Regions from separate parts of the Homo sapiens genome. Here region 1 is linked to region 2. Evidence: fine-mapped expression QTL. Tissue or cell type: whole blood. Region 2 holds a variant in brackets; the other region holds the start of a gene. All regions are shown on one strand. Distances are between the middles of the regions.

Region 1 (8,179 bases), 41 kb before region 2:
TGTCCCAGCCATGGGGCTAGGAGGGGGCGGAGCCAGGAGTCAGAGCTGGGTTTCAAGATGCCCAACTCAAGGATCTGTTCGCCACACCACTGCTGTTTCCTGTCTGGTACTTACTGTCCCTTCTCCTATCAGCCCCCATTTTCTCAGCCAGACCCCTACTTCTTCCCCCTGCTCTGTTCTTTCTGCCTCTCCTCTGATATCTGACTCAGAATCCTGGTCTTCAGGCAGCTTTCTCACATGAACCCACCCCTTTCCCTAGCTTCACCTCTCTTTCCTTCCTCTGCTTCTACTGGTTCTCTCCTTGTCACTCTGTGCTGGAGGCTAGGCCCTGGCTTCCCTCTCTTACCTTAGGGTTAGGAGTATGGCTGTGTGGACCATAGGTGCCTAGGACTAGGGTGACCAACTGTTCTGATTTGCCCAGGTATATCTTGGTTTAAGTACTGAAAATCCTAGGCAAAGCAGGACAGCTGTCATCCCACCAGGATCTGTGAGCAGCTATTTCTGCTTGTTTAGTGATTCCAGTGCTCTGCTTTTTTCTCCCCACATGACTTATATATAGCTTTGAATCCTTGAGAAATAGACACTTTGGTTCCTTAAGTGTCTGAGAGGCTCTAGGTTCCTTAAGTGTCTGAGGCTCTAGACACAACCAGCAAGCAGCAGAGCTTCTGCCTATAAATTTCAGGCTCATTGTCTCCTCTATCACACAGTGTCTCCTGGATGACCCACTGAACAGATACCATGTACGGAATGCAGAGGTTCATGAGAAGAGGGTGTGGAAGCTTGGAATTGCCCTTGGAGCATTTCCCTGTACCAGGATGACTTTTCACTGCGGCGCCCCCACAGTGCTCTTGTTTCTACCACCTGTTCTTCCCCACCTCTATTGGGATTTCTGCCACAACTTTCTTTTTTTTTTTGAGGTGGAGTTTCACTCTTGTTGCCCAGGCTAGAGTGCAATGGTGCAATCTCGGCTCACCACAACCTCTGCCTCTTGGGTTCAAGTGATTCTACTGCCTCAGCCTCCCAAGTGGCTGGGATTACAGATGTGCCACCATGCCCGGCTAATTTTTTGTATTTTTAGTAGAGATGGCATTCTCCATGTTGGTCAGGCTGGTCTCGAACTCCTAACCTCAGGTGATCCGCCTGCCTTGGCTTCCAAAAGTGCTGGGATTAAAGGCGTGAGCAAAAAATATTTATTGCAATGAACATAAAGAAAAAGGACATTTAAAACACCAGGAAAATTCAGCCGGGCACAGTAGCTCACGCCTGTAATCCCAGCACTTTGGGAGGCTGAGGCAGGTGGATCACCTGAGGTCAGGAGTTCTAGACCAGGCTGGCCAATATGGTGAAACCCTGTCTTTATTAAAAATACAAAAAATTAGCCAGGCGTGGTGGTAGGCACCTGCAATCCCAGTTACTCAGGAGGCTGAGACAGGAGAATCGCTTGAACCCAGGAGGCAGAGGTTGCAGCGAGCCAAGATTGTGCCACTGCACTCCAGCCAGGGCAACAGTGCAAGACTCTGTCTCAAAAAAATAAGCAAACAAACAAAAGAACCTAGGAAAACTCCTCCCACAGTCTCTAAATAAATCAACTCACTTTCTAGTTACTCACAAAGTCTGTCTTATCTGCATTTTTTTTTTTTTTTTTGAGAGAGGGTCTCATTCTCTTGCCCAGGCTGGAGTGCAGTGGCACGATAAGGGCTCACTGCAGCCTTGACCTCCCAGGCTCAAGTGATCCTCCTACCTCAGCCCCCCTGACCCGTGGGAGCTGGGACTACAGGAGTGTGCTACCACACCTGGTTAATTTTTTGTATTTTCAGTAGAGATGGGGTTTCGCCATATTGGCCAGGCTGGTTTTGAACTCCTGGGCTCAAGTGATCTGCTTGCCTTGGCCTCCCACAGTGCTGGGATTACAGGAGTGAGCTATTGCACCCGGCCTTCTGCATTCTTAATTCTTATGAGTTCACAGCGCAGACTCCATCATGTAGTCTGCCCTTTCCCTTTAATATGGTACATAGTATCACAAGTGGTTGCCGGTTCTGCTGCAGAGTCTCCAACAAGATGATTTAAAATAATTGTATCCAATTGGGCAAGCCATCGCTTAGCCATTTTTCTAAGGCTGGAGAGTTTTTCCCCAAGTTAAAAAAATTATTATTACATTTTGGATGAAAGCCACAGCTATTTGAGTCCAGAGGGAAAACGCACATTTTTTTGTTGGCGGACACTGATGCTCACTGAATGAGCTTTTCCCCAGGATGCTGTCTGGGACGTGCTTCTCAGAGGGTGAGCACAGATTAGTGCTGGTCTACCGTGCTTTGCTATTGCCTTGTGGTAAGCACAGAATTTGAGAGTAACCATTTAGAAAATTATTATTATTGTTGCTATTTTTAGCAGTTAAACAATGTTTTGTTTGCTGAATCTAAAAATAAAAAAAATTTGGGCTTGCATTTTGTATATCTTTTTTAAAAAATTATCTTTAGGAGGTAATTCCTTTAATTCTATTTTACAAAAGTATTGTCTATAAAGAACCGGAAATGATAAAACAGAAAGAGAGATAGTTAGGGATGGTTTGTCTTCTGGTCTAGAAGACAATATTAGGTACTGGTAGATGCTCAACAAATCTATAACCACAGACTTTTGGTGCTGAAGTACCTTGTGTGGTTTTGTGTTTGAGAAGTCTGAGGCTTATCAAGCAGCACACAATGTGAATGACCTTGGGCAGAATCTGTGGGCCTCCACTTGTACTCAGTGACCACAATATTGCACTTCCATGTGATAAAATTTTGGGTGCTCATGGTGATGATAACTGCAGGGAGCAGAAGCAGTGTGTGGGGAGATTGGAACAAAACTTTTGCCCCACCAGGACGATGCTGTGACAGAAAGTGTTTCCACCTCTGTCCCAGCTATGGTCCTGAGGTCTCTAAACACCATCTAACTTTGCCCCAGATCTCCCAGGCACATCCCAGAAACAAACAACTCGATGGTGGAGTTTCTTAGGAAGAGATGAACTGATGATTTGGGGAGAATCTGTATAGAAGTTTCCAGCAATGAGATCCTGAGAGATTCTTGCATTCTGATCTCTAAATGGCAAGAGATGAATGATAAATGATCGAGTTGGGGAAGTTTGTCTGCAATCTGATTTCTGCAACTCACAGGTGTGAGGTTTTAAACAGATGTTGCTGGCAGGCAAACTAAACATTAATACTCCCCTTTCAGGATTGTAAAGGTGCCCAGCCCAGTAATGTGTGTGTGTGTGTATATATATAGAGCCGGAGCCAGATCTTTTCAAAGGAGTCAGAGCTCCTTTCCTCTCTGGTCTCTGCCTCCTTCCTGCCAGGCTCTTTCTCTTGCCTGCTTCTCTGGATGCTCCAGCAAACATGAGCCACCAATTTAGTTCTCAGTCCGCGTTTAGTTCAATGAGCAGGCGGGTTTATAGTACCAGCTCTTCTGCAGGCTCTGGTGGTGGGAGTCCGGCAGTGGGTTCTGTGTGTTATGCTCGAGGGAGGTGTGGTGGTGGTGGATATGGGATCCATGGAAGGGGGTTTGGCTCTAGGAGCCTCTACAATCTGGGTGGCAGTAGAAGCATCTCCATTAATCTAATGGGGAGGAGCACCAGTGGTTTCTGCCAGGGTGGGGGAGTAGGGGGATTTGGAGGGGGCAGAGGCTTTGGGGTTGGCAGCACCGGGGCTGGTGGCTTTGGAGGAGGTGGTTTTGGGGGTGCTGGATTTGGGACTAGCAATTTTGGGCTTGGGGGCTTTGGTCCTTATTGTCCTCCTGGGGGCATCCAAGAGGTGACCATTAACCAGAGCCTCCTAGAGCCACTTCACCTGGAGGTGGACCCTGAAATTCAGAGGATCAAGACCCAGGAGCGGGAGCAGATTATGGTTCTCAACAACAAGTTTGCCTCCTTCATTGACAAGGTGAGCACCTCAGGGGCAGGGAGGGTCATTGGTCACTGACCAAATGACTGAGAGAGATTACACCTTACCACCTCTCACCACATCGTGCTGTTTCAGCTTGACCTGGGACCTTAGAAAATCATTTACCCATTTGGGCTTCAATTTGTCTTCTTGCAGGGATTTAATTCCATCTTTTCCTTTTGGCAGGAAAGGAGATAAGCAGTGTTAAAATACTCAACAGATACATGGTGTAGTACCCTCATTCTCATTCATAATTATTCACTTTCCATCCACCCATCCACCCATGCACCCATCTATCCATCCCCATCCACACAATCCATTTATACACACACACACAAACACACACACACACACACACACACACATCCATCCATTCACTTATTCATCAATCCACCCAACTATCCACCCTTCCGTCCATCCATCCATCCACCCACCCATCCACACAATCCATTTATACACACACACACACACATGCACACACACACACGTGTTCATCTGTTCATTCACTCATCCATCAATCCATTCAACTATCCACTCATGCATCCATCCACCCATCTAGCCCACAAATATTTTCTAAGAATCTATGATAGGCCAGACATCGTGCCAGGTGCTACAGGTGACTAGGACACAGGTCCTGCCATCAAGGAGCCCACGTCTAAAGGGGAGAGAATTACTACAGTGTATGTGAAGTGTGTCAATAGGGGTAGTACTCTCTGGGCCATGGTAGCTCAAAGGAGGGTGTCATGAGCTCTGCTTGCTGAGTCTGGAAGGCGGATGAAAAGTTAAATGGGTTCTAATTTTAGTATATGTGCTGCCGAAGTGAGCACGAGTTAAATGGGTTCTCAGGGCAGAGGGGATTTTCAGGCAGAAGGACCAGGAGGCATGAAAGCGTGACGCGTTTAGGGAATTTCAAACAGTTACAATTCCTGGAGAAAATGGGATACCAAGGGGTGGAGGAGAGAAGTGGAGATGAAGCCACAGAGCCAGGGCAGGAGAAGCAGGCAGGGCATGGTGAATGCCCTGGTGGTGGGTATCTCTTGGGGCTAAAGTCAATAGCATGCAATGTAGGGTTCTGTCTGAGTTTCCCCTTTTGGCTCATCAAGGGCCAAGGATGGGCCAGATGGAGACACAGAAGCCCCTGTCCCTAGTTCCCTGTTGAAACTTCAGATTAGGTCCAAAGCAGCAGCAGAGGCTGGAGAACTCGCCATGGTGAAGACCTCCCTCCAGCATCTCCTTTTGTCTGGAGGTCGAGGCACAGCGGCCACTAGCACCTCCCCAGGAGGAACTTTGCCTTCAGGGATGCAGTGGGAAGCCCCACAGAGCACCAAGGCCGCTTGCACACTCAGTGACTTTCCCTCAGTCCCCACGGGAGTTCAGTGCTGAGGCCAGAGCTTGACCTGTGGCCTGACTGCAGGGTAGCTGTGGCTAGAGGCCATACTGGGTGGCAGGGCAGGCCTCTGATATCTGAGCAGATGCTGGGGATGGGACAGTGTGTGAGCGGGCGGAGGAGGGTGAGAGTGCTGAGGCCCAGAGGCTGCCGAAGAGGAGCGCAACACAGCAGCGTGCTCCCGTGGCTTCCGATCATGCTGCGTGGGAAATTTGGCTGAGTATCACCACGCTTCAGGCAAAGGCAGGGGTTAGAGGGTTTCACTGGAGCAAGGAGTCACTACTCGGAGGTCACGGCTGGGCCAAGAGAGGAGCAGGGAGGAGAAAGGGCTGGGAAATGACCACAGGCCGCTGGCAACTGACCTCCTGAGGCTCATCTGATTATGGCCCCTGCCATGAACAGGGTCTGTCCAGTTGCATGGCATAGGGCAGTGGGCAGAGGCTAGGGTGCAAGAGACCTGGGCCTCCTGTCCTTCGAAGGGCATGGCCTATGATGACTATGAGGAGAGGCTTCTCAGCCAGGTGGGCTGTGGCCTGGCTGGAAGGAAGAAGGCTTCTATGACAGGTGACTTCTGACTCTGCTTTCCAAACTGGTCTTCCTGCTTTCACCCTTGACCCTGTATAGCCTATACTTGACACCACAGCAGAGCCATCCTTTAAAAGCATGTCACGACACTCCTCCATTTGAATCCTCCAGTGGCTTCTTGTCTCGACTGAAAGAAAAGCCCAAGTCCTACAAGGCCCTATATTACTTGCCCTTCAACCCGCAGCTGCTGCTAAGCCCACACTTGCATTTGTGGAATCAGGCCACGTTGCCCTCACTGGGTGGAACAGCTTTCGGGATACAATGGCTAGTAAGCAGAGTGAGGCCTGGAAAACAGCCCCCAGGCTTCCAACTCATTGTTGTCTGCAGCCTCCTGTGCCCCTCTGCCTCCTCTCCTGCTCTCTTCTTGCTCACCAGCATCCAAGGCTCAGTTCTGTCTCAAGGTCTTTGCACCTACCATTCCCTCTGCATGGAACTCTTCCCCCGAGAGAGAGGCCCACCTTCCTCCCTCACCTTCTGTGGGTCTTTGCTCAGATGCCACAGTTTCAGTGGGGCCTTCCCTGACCACCACTTCAGTGTTCCTATGCCCCGGCCCTGTGTGACTCCATAGTCCCTGCAGCCATCTGAGGCACTGTATTTTTTACATGATTATTTCTTTATAGTAATCTCTCTAAATAGAATGCAAACTCCTGGAAAGCAGGGATTTTGCCTGTTTTTTTTATTACCAAATCCCTAGCACCCAGAATAGTGCCTGACATATGAGAATTGCTCAATAAATAGAAACCGGATGACAAATTGGGTCAGCCCCTCAGGGGTCAGTGCTGGACGCTCAGAGAGTGGAAATGGAGCCAAAGGCTTTCTAGAACCAATGACAAGGGGACAGGGCCTCAGAAAGGAAAGGAGGGTTTCAGCTCTTACCCCTGGGACACTGGCCTGGCCTTGATCAGCTGACCCTTGGACCTCTATGCTAAGAGTGGTGAGTGGCCTGGATAGCCCACACCAGCAGGCAGTTCTAAAACCTTTTGCACTTCATGAGTGCATGACACTTTTTGTCTTCTCCGTGTTGGGCATTGTGTGTCCATGGGTCCACTGTGTCCCCTGGAGAACAAAGTAGACATAGGCCTGCCCTCATGGGGTCCAGTGCAGCCCGGGAGAGAGATGCTCACACACTGTCACATGACTGCAAGTCTCAACAGATCTAGAAAGGCAAGGAACAAGGGGCTGCAAAGGGGACACACTGGTGGGATGCCACCTCAGCTGAGGTCTAAAGGATGAGCAGGAGTTTGCTGGGCAAAGAGTTGAGGAGACCTGGGGTGCTGAGGGCACTGGGAGGTCCCTGTGCAGGGGAGGAGCACTGAAGCAGAGGGTGGGCGAGAAGGTTGCTCAGCAGCATGCCTCATTCCATCGGTGCTAGCTGAGCTGCCCTTGAGTTTTGCTGGTGGGACACAGACCAGGAGTGTTTTGGGGAACCTGGGGAAAAACACAGTGGCTTTTACTGATTGTTCTAGTGGTTAAGGCACTCCCTGCATCCAGACTCTGCCTTTGCAGTTTGGGTGGCCTGATGAGAACCACAGTGTCTTCTATGAGCTCCTGGATATTGCGGATGGGTACCTGGGCTAAAGCCAGAGCACCCAGAGTTGTGTCACTGCTCCCTCATTGTTTTATGTGGAGACTCTCCATGGGACCACAGGATTCTTTCTTTTGGTCCCCACAATGCCACTGCCACTGAGTGCAGTGAATGAGTCCTGAATTGATTTCTTCACTCCCTGGGAGTGCCACCACAGAGTAAAAATAGAGAGTGGCAGGAATTTCTCACGGTGTTGTGAGCTGTGCTGACAAGCCTGGGAGAGCTGCTTGCCTAATCTCTTGCTTTGATAAGGTGAGCAAAAATGAGCCATGGGAGGTTGTGTTGTCTGCAAACATTTTCCAGCCTAGAGTCAGAATCCAAAGGGAGCTAACCAGGGTTGGCCCCTCAGAGGGGCGGAGTCTCAAGGGCCGGGGGATTTGGAGGACCCTCACTAGTGTCACGTGGTAGGGGAGTGTCTTCAGGGTTCCGTTCTGACCACACAAAGCAGTGGGTTTGCCCCTTTACATGGTGCCCAGAGGAGGAAGCAGGATTCTGGAGGGTGTGTGTTTTTGGGCGTGTGCGCCTGCATGCGGCCGAGCAAAGTCTGGAGGCAGCATCACTGCTGCTATCAGGGCACTGGAGCAGAGGCTCCACAGTGTCTACCTGGCTGAGGAAAGGTGGAGGCTGGTCATTACCATGCCAAGGACAAGCCGCACACTTTGCACAGCCAGCCGCCTCCCTGGGCCCCGCATCTTACCTCCATAT
Region 2 (8,179 bases):
ACCATATGAAAGAAAATTAAAATGAACAGAAAATTCACCTCAACTAAGAACTATTAAGTTTCCCTTTCCATTCTAGACCCTCTTCCTACGTAAAGATGAATGAATGCAGCTGTAACCAGAAAGTAAGTATAATTATTAGCATGTATTTTAATATTGATCATTAACATTTTCTTCAAGGTCCAGCTAAATGCCAGAACTTCTGTGACTCCTTCTCTCTCCCGTGGGGAAAAAAACATTCTTTTGTGTTCCCATCCCATTTTGCCTGCCTGTGTCCTGGCATTAATAACATAATATAGGTAGCTGCAAGTATGTCTGTTCCAATGATTTGTGTTGTCCTAAATGGGTGAGTGGGTGGGGGGCATGCCTTATTTATTTCTGATTATTTCCGACAAAATGGGTTAAGAATCCCGCAACAAAACAACACATGGGGTCCTTCATTTTGGGCCCCTTGGGTGAGGAATGTTGTCCTAGAAAAGCACATTCAAAGGTCTGAAATGTGCATTTATTGGCTCTACTGGGTGTCTTTTCACCTGCCTAGACCATATTTCCTTCGGTAAAGGGGTTATAATGGAGCTGTCTCTGGCAGGCTGAGTTCAACTGGCCATCAGGAGTAGCTATGTCTGACCAATCCTGGGCCAGGGAGGGCCCTTGGTGACCATACCTACCTAGCGAGACAAGTAACTAGCAAGGTGAGCGGATAGGGACTGGGAGGATTTAGGGCCCAATCTCTTAGGAAAGACCTCAGGGGGTAGCAGTTCTCCTAAGTGGGGTCCCTGGGTGGGGTGGGAATATAGTCTATCACATGCTTCACCAGTGGAGAATTTCTGATGGGGCGAAAGTGGATGTCACAACAGTAGGTCCTAGGAGAACTGGACAGGGAAAGCTAAGTCAGGATGGCCTCGCCTCTGAGGTCTTTCTAGGGATGCCCTGGGATTCTTGACTTCAGCAAGTGCCTTACTTTTTACTAGGGAGATGAGCAAAGGGCCGTCGAAATTCAGCCACAGCCATAGACAGGTGCTGCCAGCTATGCCCTTGGGACGAGTGGCCTTTGGGATAGAAGACTGGGTGTCATCTCTTTAAGACCTGTCCTTAAGGTCACCAAATATAGAACAGGATGATTAAACATGCATGAGGACATCTGACCTTAGTTTAAAACCTTGTTTGGTATGATTTCTCCTCAAGACAGCTGTCCTTTGCCCAGACACCTACAGACATAGAGAAGATTCTCCTGAGGTTGCATGGGACAGAGGCCGGGCCCTGTTGGGGTGAGCTGGATGGAGGCAGGCTGGAGGCAGGTGGCAGGGCCATCAGAGTCCCGGCTGAGAACGTGCACAGGACACCTGTCATGGGCATCTGTTAGAGGTTGAGTGTCAACCAGTTTCTCATCTGGGTCAGGCTTAGGGGAGAGGGTACTGTCATTCTCCAAATACACCAAACTTTTACACATGTTTATGCTGTTAGGTCTTTGCAAATGTCTCTCCATTTTCCTGGAGTTCCTTTCTCCCTTTTCTGTGTGTAGACTCGAATTCATCCTTTAAAAGCCAGTTCATAGTTCCTCCTTCCTTGACTCCTGCCTCACTTTTCCATTTATGTTTCCTTGCTTCTGGCATATGATGTCCAGCGGTGTCCTGGAACCCTCCCGCACCAGCTTATGAAAGCCAATTGCCTGCTTTTGTTCCTAACTCCATGTTCAGTAACACCGTGTTGATTGCTTGAGATCAACCATGGTAGGTATATTTACTCCACAGAAATGAGTGCCTATGGAATAATGAATTTCTTGAGGACAAGGACTGTGTCTTCTTTACCTTTTCATCCTGAGGATGCAGCAGAATGTGTATTCTACTGCAGTGATTAGTGAGTTTTTGTTGGTCAATGAACTGGACAGAGTAAGCACTGGAGGAATACAGGAAGGAGGGGGCCACATCACACCAGGGTCATCAGTCAAGGGGAGAGAACATCTGAGTTGAGTTGGGTCTTGGAGGGTGGGTTGATGGTAATTTGGGTGAAGTAGGTGGGATCCCTGGGGATGTTACCAGTTCCAATGCAAGGGAACTCTTGTTTGGGAAGAAGATCCCGTGAGGCAAGCTCCATCTTGGCTTGTAGTCACCTGTCTGCATGCAGAGGTGTGCATGAGACAAGGTCTGAGGTGAGGCCATCTTGCCCCTTCCCTAGCTCTAGGTCCTTAATTAACCTCAATTATATGGACAGTGGGAAAGTGTGTGGCAAGGCAGGTTCTTAGCTTAGCTTTCCAGACCCAACAACCCAGACATTCCTACCCTCCACATTCCTACTCTGTATGCAATGGAGTAGTTGGTTAGTCCCTCTTGTTATCAGTCTTAAGTTTCTGCTAATGCCAGCACAGTTGATTTCCTTCTGTTCTACACCTGGTGGAGCTGGAAGAGCATTTTAGGCAAATGGAGAACATGATATCTGCCTCCATGTCCCTGAAGGAAGAACAAGCTGATCCTGTAGTTGTAACCATTCATTATTAGCATTCACAGATGAACATTTGGTTGTCTTCATTCACACTGTGCTAACTACTAAGGTGTGCTTGGGATCGGAGAAACCCCGCTGGGTTCCAAAGGGAGTGCCCTGTTTTTGGCTGCCTTCTTCTCAGTAATCCTCTCTCTTGGCTTGGTAATGGATAAACAAGGTTTCCATGATGAAGACATAAGGCTTTGAGGAAAGGTGGTGTGGCAGGAGCCTCATGCCACCTCATTGGCACTTCTGACCTGCCATGTGGCACCATGGAGGGGTGCACAGCTGGCAGGACCTGGGCAAATGCAGTCTGTCCTATAGCAGGACAGTCATCAAGCTGTGGTTACTAGGAGTCTGATAAAACAAGGATTGGACCATCTTGCCCCTGTAACCACCCTATTAGCTCCTTTCCTGGCCATCTGCAGGGATGTGAATAGGAGGAGCAGTTGGTCTGATGCCTTAACAGCCCTGGGGGAAGTGTGGCAATGACAGATTTAGAAGTTGTAAAGGACACAACTCCTATTTGCTTCCTATTTTCCATTATTATGGGTAATTGAGCGTTGACTGCAGTATTTATTAAGCCCCTGACTTTGGTCTACCTGAGGCCTTTTCTGGCTCTGAAATTCAGTGCTGTCAGGCTGGTGTGGCGAGGTGGAGGAGCTGCGGGGCTGGGCTCCTGCTCTGTTACCCTTTATTCATGAGGCCTTGACAAGCTCTGAACTCAGTGTCTTCATCTTAGAAATGAAGATGTCAGCCACAATGGTTTCTACCATGTCTTTGAGCTGTTAGCACAGATACCAGAGTAGGGTGGAGAACCTGTAGGAGGGCAGAGCACTCTCACTCAATCTTTGCATTGGGAACAGGGAATTAGGTGAATGAGGGTGGGGAGGGCAGAAGTGGGGCTCCCAGAAGGATGTGGTTTCTGAGTACGTTGGGCCAAGCCTTATCACCACTCGTCTTGTGATCTCAGGCAGGTCTCTTCACTCTCTCAGAGGCTCAGTTTGGTCATGTGTGAAATGAGATAACATTTGCCCTAATTACTTCAGAGGGAGAGTGTCAAAGTGAAATGACACATGCAACAGGGACCTGAAGTAATACATGAAGGGAGCGATCATCAGCACTGCTGCTCTTCCTTGAGAAGGCACCCAAGGGTGGGAGTGGGATGGGGCCAACGAGCAGCGGTGCAGCCTGGGTACGCAGGAAGGACTGCTTCCTTGGGGGCCAAAGTGGGGTCCTATGCTTCATTCTTTTAAAAGAAATACCCATTCATGAAGGGAGGGCTTATATCCTAAATCCATGGCCACTGGCCTTGTAATGAATGGCCACTTAGTGCCTGAGCAGGGAGCAGCGGACCACCAGTTGGGAGCAGGACCGGAGACAGCGGGGGAGCTCCAGGGCATAGGGTTAGGGTGGGCTTGTAAGCTAAGGAAAGAGGTGCATGATCAGGTGGCAAGATGCAGGCTAGGAGATTGTGGCAATAACATAAAATCGACGTAATGTTGGAAGTTCTAGACACTTACTATAACTTCTACAGATAATGCGAAAGGAGAAATATTTGCTTTGTGCTAGAAATTGTGCTGTGTCACATAAATCACTTATTTCACAGCAACTCTGAAGTACTACTGTTGACCTGTGAACAACCCAGATTTGAACTGCACCACTCCACTTATATGTGAATTCTTTTTCAGTAAATATGTTGGAAAAATTTTTGGAGATTTGTGACAATTTGAAAAAACTTGAAGATGAACTTGTATCCTAGAAACATAAAAAAATTAAAAAAAAGTTAGGCATGTCATAAATGCATAAAATATATGTAGATACTAGTCTATTTTATCACTTACTCCCATAAAATATACACAAATCTGTTATGAAAAGTTAAAATTTATCAAAATGTGTGCACACACGGACTCTACATAGTGCCAAAGTCAAGAGAAATGTAAGCAACTGTAAAGGTGCATTATTAAATCATAACTGCTTAAAATTAACTGTGATACATATGTGCTACTGTAATCATTTTGTAGCCACCTCCTGTTGCTACTTCAGTGATCTCAGGTATTGCCATTAAAACACTGTGTGATGCTAGTCATCTCCACAAGAGCAATTAGCTCCCCCAGTAAATTGCTTATAGCAGTAAAAAGTGATCTCTGGAGGTTCTCGCATATTTTTCATCATGTTTAGTGCTTTACAGTAAACCTTGAATAACACCATGGGACCCATGCAGAGTGGCACTAGTGATGCTGGAAGTGCTCCCAAGAAGCAGAGAAAAACCATGACATTACAAAAAAAAAAGCTGAATTGCTTGATATGTACCGTAGATTGAGGTCTGCAGCTGCAGTTGCCTGCCATTTCTGACA[T/G]GATAGATAATTCATCTTGCAAACACATGATGTAAGCTTATGGTATTGATAGATACAGTACAGTACTGTAAACGTGTTTTCTCTCCTTATGATTTTCTTAACAACATTTTCTTTTCTCTAGCTTACTTTATTGTGAGAATACAGCAATAACATATATATAAAACAAACAAAATATATGTTGACTGCTTATGTTATCAATAAGGCCTCTGGTGAGCAGTAGGCTAATAGTAGTCAAGTTTTTAGGTAGTCAAAAGTTATATTGAATTTTCAACTGCAAGAGGGGTCATGCCCCCTAACCATTCGGTTGTTAAAAGGTCAACTCTACTGTTACCACCACTTTACAGATGAGGAAATGGAGGCCACAAAAGGGTAGGTAACATTTCCAAGGCCAAGAGGCCAATAAGTGGTGGGGCTGGGATTCAACCCAGGTGTGTTGGACAAATCCATGTCCTTAACCAGTACACAGGCGGCCTTTGCTTGTTACAAGGCACCATGCAAGGATAATTAATTGTGATATTAGGTTGGTGCAAAAATTATTGTGGTTTTGGCTATTACTTTTAATTACATTACTCAGCTTTTCTTCCTAAACAGAAGATCCCTCTCAATGTTTTCTCTTGGGATACTGTAGTCACTTTTTATATGAGGACAGAAGGCAAAGAAAAGACTCAGGGGACAGGCAGAGGGCCCAACAGCCCAGTGTTGGAAAGCCTGGGTTTTCCACCAGGGTAGAGCAGGGCAGGTCTGCCTTGAACCTGGCCTCAGAAGCTTCCTTCTCAGTCCTCTTTCCTTCCATCAGCCTGGGGAGAGTGATGAGGAGCTGTGCCCCCTGGTCCTTTGAAGGGACCCTGGTCATCTCTGGCAGGGCCTGCTGCTCCCCATCAATGCCAGGCAAAGAGCTGAGTGCCATGCGCTGCTGCTGAAACACCAGTGAGGAAACATAAACTGGCGTCTCCCAACCTCATCATCAGGTCTCACCCCAGTCCTGCCCCTCCCTTGCCTGGCAGTGCTCTTTCCTCTAGCTCTCAGAGGAACCAGGGGGAGCCTGCTCACCCCTTGACAGACGATCGTTTGGGTTTTAGGACAAAGGCAAAGTCTGCTTTCCCAAGGTAATGTAAACAGCCAACCTGCTCTAGTATGATGCTCCTTGTTTTGCTGTTTGGAAAGCAGGTGTCCCCAAGAAGGGCCAGGATGCCAGGCAACAAGGCTGTTAGGTGGGTGAGGGAGTCTAGAAAGCTCCTGCAAGAGCAAGGGTTCGGAAGATGCGGAGGGCTCCTGGGACCCAGCTGAGCTTGATCTCCTGGCTGCTGGTCTAGGGAAGAAGAGAAGCAGAGGTGGAAACTAGAGGAGGGTGGCTGGTGAATAAGAGATCAAATCCCAAGGGTGTGGAGCTGTAAAACGCTGTGCAGGCGCCCTGCCATGCCTTCCAGCAGCATTAGAGACTGGCAGCAGGACGGGTGCTCGCATTTTGTGCTTCCTTACTGGCTCCCCTCCTTCCTTCCAGGCAGATTCACTCTCTTGGTGGCTCCCGCCAGGTGTCTTCCCTTAAACAGCCCCCAGGAGGCCAAGCTCTCTGTCCCCCAGCCTTCCCACACTGCCAAGATCTCGTCCCCAGGGAGGCTGGGGACTCCTGTACTATGCGGATGGCAAGTCCTCAGCCCACCTCCTCCATTTACCCTTCACTGCCCACTGCCTGAGTGCAGGGATCCTGGGTATAGGCAGGGCAAGGGCCCCCTGCCCAACCTTCCTGCTCTGGCTGTATCTGGGCTCAGTACCACACATGGCAGTCTGTGTCCATGCCTCTGTCCCCAGAGAGAGCAGGATGAGGGCCTCTGAAACTGGGTATTAACAAGGCCCCAGATAGTTCTCTGCTGTCTTGGCAATGCCACACCGAAGAGGCTGCCCATTGTATTCACACTCCGAGTGGTGGGGAAGGATCCTCACGTTCCCTGGCCTTTCTAGTGGGTGACATGAACTCCCTGGGACATGGGAGGAGGGAGGATCCCCTTTTCCTCACATTCAGTATGATAGTCTACTATACTGCCCCTGCCAACTCCTCCTTGGCCCACCGCCACCCCCACAGCAGCCCTCCCCTCTTTTGTGCTTGCCCACTCACGTCTCTACCCCTTTGGGCCTGAGCAGAAACCCAGAACATCAGACACTGCAAAGGCCTCTGCGTGTGTCTTGATGATTAGTGTCTGCACAGGACCAGGCAGTGGAAAATGTTGGCAGTAATCTGGTTTCATGGATTTGCCCAGACAAGCCTGCCATCATGTCCCCATTCTAAAATTCTGTCACTATCACCTCTCTTTTCCTTACCAGAAAAACCTTATTTCTCCCTAATAGTATGAATGGCATGGAGTTAATCCCTGTACAGAGAGAAGTGCAGGCAACATCTGGTCTTCCAATATATGGACAGCGAGCTGAGTTCATGGATATATTAATGGGCCTCCAGAGGACTCCTGACCAGAAGGAGTGGGTGTCTGGAGCCTCTCCTGAAAGAGGGGTCCTGGGAAGCCCCCAGCATATAGGCTGTAGTGTGTAAGTGCCAGCTGAGTGCCCATGTGGAGGCCTGGTGGGGAAGGCGGGTCCATGCAGAACCATACAGACTTCCAAAGGGTCTTATTGGAGAGCCAATGAGATTGGCATCTTTGGTCTTGATCTGAGTGGGAGAGACACAGCCTGAAGCATGCAAACCCAAACGAGGCAGGGTGTCTAGGCATGAGCCAGGAGCAGCAAAGCAATGCCCACCCAAGGGAGGGGAGAGAACCTGGAGATTTTACACACCCAGAGCCCCCTCCAAACCCAGGCAAACTTTCCACAAAACTTTCCCTAGTGCTTGACATGGAGCTCCAGAAGAGGAGGTAAGGTTCTGCCTGCCCCGGGTATGCCGAGCCCAAGGGAAGAGAAAGAATTAAAGGAGAAGCAACGGACCAGGATCTGAGAAACTTTGTTTAGCTTTTGGAAATGGTGAGAGGTTATTTCAAAGAGACAGTTATTTATGGATCTACTCTACTTCTTGGTATCCTTGAGAAAAACAAGAGATATAAGCCCCTAAGGAGCTTACAGTTGGGGAATCAAGATATAATGAACTCGTGCCTTTTGGGCCCTGACTGATGGCAGCTCCTGCCTGATGGCAAACCCTCCTATTCAGCTGCAGCGTACCTGTTTGCCCTTCTCTCTCCTCTCTGGCTTCCCTTTGTCTACTTTACTGCTGCCATTTCTTCCTTCATCTCTTGGTGAGAAAATAACCGAAAGCAGGGTCTGTGTCTGCACATTTTGTCTCTACGCTTTCCCAGAGTTTGCATCTGCTCTCAGGGCTTTAGCTATTGTGTCCATTTAAAGCACAA

The links. PIP is the estimated chance that this variant, and not a neighbour inherited with it, causes the effect.
Region 1: it holds the start of KRT77, and the variant in region 2 is fine-mapped to the expression of KRT77 in whole blood (INTERVAL, PIP above 0.99).

Annotation. Positions count from the first base shown.
Region 1 is chr12:52,698,630-52,706,808 of GRCh38, reverse strand. It overlaps KRT77 (keratin 77), which reads left to right and starts at 3,285. Exons shown (of 9, transcript NM_175078.3): 1 at 3,285-3,917. The coding sequence starts at 3,375. RefSeq lists an enhancer at 5,043-5,212.
Region 2 is chr12:52,657,763-52,665,941 of GRCh38, reverse strand. No RefSeq gene overlaps it. Among named protein-coding and RNA genes, the nearest start is that of KRT2, 9.6 kb to the right of the region's middle. The variant T/G (reference allele first, on the strand shown) is at 4,833.